Linked DNA regions of Homo sapiens: region 1 is linked to region 2. Evidence: fine-mapped expression QTL. A gene starts in region 2. The other region holds a variant in brackets. All regions are shown on one strand. Distances are between the middles of the regions. Region 1 has its middle 7.5 kb from the start of PI16. Region 2 holds the start of MTCH1 (mitochondrial carrier 1).

Region 1 (2,746 bases), 39 kb after region 2:
GGAAGGAGGAAGGAAGGAAAAAAAAAAAGAAAGAAACACAGAGCTGGGCGTGGTGGCTCAGGCTTGTAATCCCAGCACTTTGGAAGGTGGAGGTGGGCGATTGCTTGAGCCCAGAACTTTGAGACCAGCCTAGGCAACAAAGTGAGACCCTTTCTCTATTTCTAAAAACTTTTAAAACATTAAAATGAATAAAATAAAATAAAAACAGACTTCCCAAGGAATTAAAGTGCTGACCTGGCCTGGGAAGTGCTGGACTCAGGAATGGAAGGACACAGTTCTCAGATGCCCCCCGGGTGGAACCAGGCACTGGCACTACAGGTTGCCCTGGTGTGGTCATCTCTGTGGCCTCTGCCTCCAGTCATGCCCCTTCAATAGCAAGGAAAACAGCTCCGTAGATGCAGGACAATGGGCAGCATTCATTCACTCAACAAAGGCTTACAGAGCCTCTCATTGTGCCAGGCGCTGAGCTGGGTGAACAACAGCAGGAAACCAACCAGCAACCACAGGCAGTGTTGTGGATGAGAGTGTGGGGCTTACCGGCTGGGTGGCCTGGGGCAGGTGATTTCTCTGCTCACTGGCCTGTTTCCACATCTGTACACTGGGGCTTAGAACAGAACCTACCTCCTAGGATGGTTGTGAGCATTAAATGAGTTAGTACATGGGTAGGGCCTGTGATCATCCCTGGAACATAGTAAGTGCTCATTGAGTTAGCCAGTATTCACATACAGCAGGTCCTTGAATAACGTCATTTCATTCCATGTCTTTTTGTCATGACATTGGTAAGAGAAAAATTCGATTCCTGCAGGGGCCACTGTCTGCGTGGTGTTTGCATTCTCCCCACGTCTGCGTGGGTTTTCTCCCATGTCCCAAAGCTGTGCACGCTAGGCTCATTGGTGAGTCTGCATGGTCCCAGCACGAGTGAGTGTGGGTGTGTGAGCACCATGTCCTGTCCAGGGTAGGTTCCCACCTGGCATCCTGAGCTGCCAGGATGGGCTCCAGCCACCCACGACCCTGAACTGGAATAATTGGGTAAATAATTATCTTGTTTTTCTTTCTTTCTT[C/TTTCTTC]TTTCTTTCTCTTTCTTTCTTTTTTCTTTCTCTCTCTCTCTCTCTCTCTTTCTTTCTTTCTTTCGAGAGAGTGTCTCGCTCTGTCACCCAGGCTGGAGTGCAGTGGCACAATCTCAGCTCACTGCAACCGCCACCTCCTGGGTTCAAGTGATTCTTGTGCCTCAGCCTCCTGAGTAGCTGGATTACAGGTGCCCACCACCACAGTCAGCTAACTTTTGTATTTTTAGTAGAGATGAGGTTTCACCAAGATGGCCAGGCCGGTCTCGAACTCCTGACCTCAGGTGATCCACCCACCTGGGCCTTGCAAAGTGCTGGGATTACAGGCGTAAGCCAGTGCACCTGGCCTAATTATCTTGTTTTTCTTAATTTTTCTTAAATGTATGTATAGCTTACATTCATTTCAGTGTTTAATATTAGAAGTGTTTTGATCTTTAGAAGTTTGGTGATGTTTTTGTCACCAGAAATATGTCACAGGAATTCTATTCATTTATATCAATTAGCCTATGGTAAAATTGGTTTTGTTTCCCTTAAAGTTGCAGTTTCCAAGAGTCTATCAGCAACTTAAGTGAGAACTTACTGTATTTGTTATTATATATCTTCCACCTGTTATATATAACAGGTGGAAAAGTTTGCATAGCCTGAGGCTATAGCAAAGAAAAAAAATACAGCAACCTGACTTGGCTTTTACCCTGGGGAGGACTGCCTTGGCCTGGGAGAGCTCCTAGGTAGAAAGGGAGGACACACCCCTCTCTGAGGGACAGGGGCACTGGTTGAGTGTTGCCAGGATGTGGGCTGGGGAGGCCTCCTGGGAAGGGCATTTGGTTGGAAGCAGAGACACCTGGCTTGCCTGAGAGGGTTGGGTGAGATGGGAATGAAGACTGGGAGGCTGACCAGAGCCAGCCAGCGCATGTGGGGACCCAGGTGTGCAGACAGAGTCCACTCTGCGTGTGCACACTTATACGTGGTTCACAGAGCTTCTCCCATTTGAGTGACCTCACCCACTCCTCACAGGATAGCTCTCCAAGGTGAGTCTCACTGTCACCCCGCATAAGGAGACTGATGCTCAGAAAGGTAAGTGATTTCCCCAGTATAGGTCGGGGAGGGTCTGGAATAGTGACAAAGTGGTGGGACCAGAGCCAGGGACCTGCCACTAGGAAAAGAGGGCAGTTAAGGCAAGCACATGGAGGAGAGAGAGGAATGGAAGAGGTGAAGTTAGGGGAGGGTGAGAGGGAGAAAGAGAAGGCAGCATCAGAGTAGACGGTGTGTTTTATCCATAAACCCAGACTTGGGGAAAATAGATTTTCTTCTGTATTATTATTTCTGTATATTTTAAATCAAGTTTTATTTTGAACAGCAGTATAACTCCATAACAAAAAAATAAGCCAAAAAGGAAAAAAAAATAATTCCATCTCTGGCATTTGCTTCTCGTCTGAGCAGGTGGTCCACAGCCACTCAAAGTGTGGTCCACGGCCCGGTGCTGGTCTGCCAGAGATTCGCCACTGTTTTTCAGCACAACAGGCCCAGAAAATGAGAGTAAATGTTTAGAAACTCTTACAGCAATTGGACATGGTTGTTTTCTGCCTGTTGAATCTATGATTTAAAAGTTGGGCTTGTATTTCATGTATCTGCTTTTCATTTCATTTTTATTATTTATTTATTTTATTATTTTTTTTTGAGACCAAGTC
Region 2 (3,013 bases):
AGTTCAGAAAGAAAAACAGACAGTTGGAGAAAAATGGGGACGAAAAGCCCAAAGAAGGAAAAGGTTCCTGTGAGGAAGTTTCAGAAGGATGGGGAAGTAAATCATCCTCCCCTACCCCCACCCCCCACCCCCAAACTAAAACCTATCGCCTCTTCTGGGTAGAGAGTTAGTGTGGCACTAGGAACTTGACTTTGAGGTCCTTATTGAGAAAGCTAAATCAGAACCTAGGCAAAAGGAAGTCATTTAAGGTGCTCCTGGGGGATGTTTGATGAAAATTGTGTTTGATGGAGAAAACACAGCAAGTTGAAAGGGTTAGCAGGCTTTGCAAGTGATTTCACTAGGACAAGCCTGGGTTAGGGAGGCCAAGGTGAGGGAGAGAGGGAGTGTGGCATGCTTTGAACGTGGAAAGTACATAGTGTTCATTATCAGGAGTGGGAAGAGGGGAGGTAGCTTTTTAGGGGGTAAGGCAGGAAGGGAGTTAGAAAGGACAGACTGGGAAACCCGGACTAACAGTGGCAGGTGTCGATCTAAAGAAATTTCTCACAATGAACTGGCTATAGACTAAGTACAGACAAAGGGACCAGGTCTTCCATTGCTGTGTCCCTGCACACTCTAGGATCCGTTCAAACAGAAACTTTTATTGCGAACCCCCAAAACTAGCACGGTTCTGTTGTAGGTGTTGTTGCAGAGTGTCGGGCACGTTTACAAACAGGAACAGGGCACTTGCTGTCCTATCTTCCTCGCAGGGTTCTTGTGACGATTACACTTAAATCAACACGTATAAAGCATTTTAAAAAGTGCCTGTCACATAGTCCCTGCAATTTAAGGTCTAGTTGTGATTATTCACTTGTATTAACTAAGAATCAACTACAGGCGCCTAGCAGTGCCTGCATGTGCTCACACTGAGGCACTCACTAAAACCCTCAGGATCTAGTGAGGGAGACAGTCAAATACTTTAGAGCAAAACAAATTTTACAACCACGGACTCTGAGGAAGGCGTGCGAAGGCTCCACAGCTGGGGAGGGTGCCCACAGTCGCCGAGGGGACATCTGGATTTGCTCTGGTTGGGAGAGCATTCCTGGCAGAGGAGATGGAAAATGCGATCGGACAAAGAGGCTGGGACCGCGGAGGGGATCGGGCTCGGGGTCGGGGCTCGTCCTGCAGCAGGAGATTCAGCTCGCGCAGAGTTCCACGCAGGCCGCGGCGACTGGGATCTGGGCCGCAAAGGGGCGGGCAGAGAACTGCAGAGAAAACTCCCGAAGCCAGGGAGGTGGCTTGGAAGCGCCTCAGACCATATTGGGGACGTCTGGCAGCCAGAGGCGCCGAACCCCGCCCCCGCGTGCTCTGGGCATCCCGGGGGAGCGCCCCGGCCTGCGGCTGCCGCCACAGCTCCCGAGCCCGGGGCCCCGGCTGCCCGCCACCATTGACCCCCGGCCCGCAGCCCAGTGTCCTGCTAGGCCTCCAACCGGCCGGGGAGCCACATCCGGCGTGTCCCACCCGCCGCACCACGCTCCCGAGCTCCCCCGCGGCCTGGAGTGGTGCGCCCCGGCCCCGCCCCCTGACGCCGGTGAGGGGGCGTGGCCCCGTCACGTGACGGGGAGTGACCTCGCCGCCGGGCGCCATGGGAGCTTCGGACCCGGAAGTGGCGCCCTGGGCTCGCGGCGGTGCCGCGGGGATGGCGGGAGCCGGAGCTGGAGCCGGAGCTCGCGGCGGAGCGGCGGCGGGGGTCGAGGCTCGAGCTCGCGATCCACCGCCCGCGCACCGCGCACATCCTCGCCACCCTCGGCCTGCGGCTCAGCCCTCGGCCCGCAGGATGGATGGCGGGTCAGGGGGCCTGGGGTCTGGGGACAACGCCCCGACCACTGAGGCTCTTTTCGTGGCACTGGGCGCGGGCGTGACGGCGCTCAGCCATCCCCTGCTCTACGTGAAGCTGCTCATCCAGGTGGGGGACCAGAGGCGCCGTAGGGAGATGGGAGGCTGATGTGAAGGTGACAGGCCAGGATTTGGAGGATTGGGGCGGGCAGTCAATGGCGACGGATTTGGGGAGAGGGGTGGGGACGGCGGGTTTGGGGGGCCGAGTGGGTGGGATGGGAGGGAAGCCGTGAGGGAGTTGGGAACGCAGGGGTCACGGGTTTTAGGATACAGAAAGGAGACCAAGGGGTTAGAGTAATAACAGATACGGGAGAGGGTGGAAGGAACAAGCGATTTGGGGGAGTGCCAAGGAGGGAGCGATGGGCTGGAAAAACATATTTGGGAGATAAAGGAGTGGGGACGATGGACTTGGGATAGGGAAGGGAGCGAATTTGGGGCGAGGGAAGAAGCAATAGAATTGGGGGAGGGGCAAGAAGTTTGGGTGAAGAGATGGGGAGGAAGGTTGGGGGCCCAGGCAAAGTGTTTAGAGAATGAGGAGCACATAATTGGGGTAGAGGGGAACGGAGGCTCTGGATTTGATAGAGATGGATTTAAAACGTCTTGGGGTGGGGACAAAGTGGGCGCCAGGGCCAGAAATTTAGGAGGGAAAGAAGGACACCAGACTGGGGGTGGACAGAGGAGACGGAGGTCTTGGGTTGCATTGTGATTTAATTTGGTGGGAGAGTGCGAAGGCAAAGACTTTTGCAGGGGAATGCTATCGGTTTACCGGAGATGGGGGCTCTGGATTTGATGGCGACGACGGATTTGGTAGGAGGAGGGGACAGGGTGACGCGTATGGGGGGAGGGGAACAGATAGGGCCAGCATTGGGGGAGGGGAGTGGCAGCGATTTGTCTAGAGAGGGGAGCTAGGAGGAGGCTTTAAGCGGGGAAGGGGGATGACGCATTTGGAGGAGGAAATGGAAGTCATAGTTGGGGTCAGAGAGAGGAATCACAGTGCTTGTATCTGGGCAGATGAGGAGAAGGGGCACGGGAGTATTGAAATTGGGCAGAAGGGACAGTGGAGACATAGGTGGCAGGATAGGTAGGGACTACCAGAAATTGAGACCGAGGTAGGGATGTCTCTGGAACAGAGGGATGCATA

Evidence for each region. PIP is the estimated chance that this variant, and not a neighbour inherited with it, causes the effect. A credible set is the group of variants that fine-mapping cannot tell apart.
Region 1: its variant is the best candidate, but not a certain one, in a credible set for the expression of MTCH1 in whole blood (INTERVAL, PIP 0.69).

Annotation. Positions count from the first base shown.
Region 1 is chr6:36,945,893-36,948,638 of GRCh38, reverse strand. It overlaps a transcript of PI16 not described here. Among named protein-coding and RNA genes, the nearest start is that of PI16, 7.5 kb to the left of the region's middle. The variant C/TTTCTTC (reference allele first, on the strand shown) is at 1,062.
Region 2 is chr6:36,984,782-36,987,794 of GRCh38, reverse strand. It overlaps MTCH1 (mitochondrial carrier 1), which reads left to right and starts at 1,599. Exons shown (of 12, transcript NM_001271641.2): 1 at 1,599-1,942. The coding sequence starts at 1,622. RefSeq lists enhancers at 995-1,204, 1,323-2,045 and a silencer at 1,295-1,884.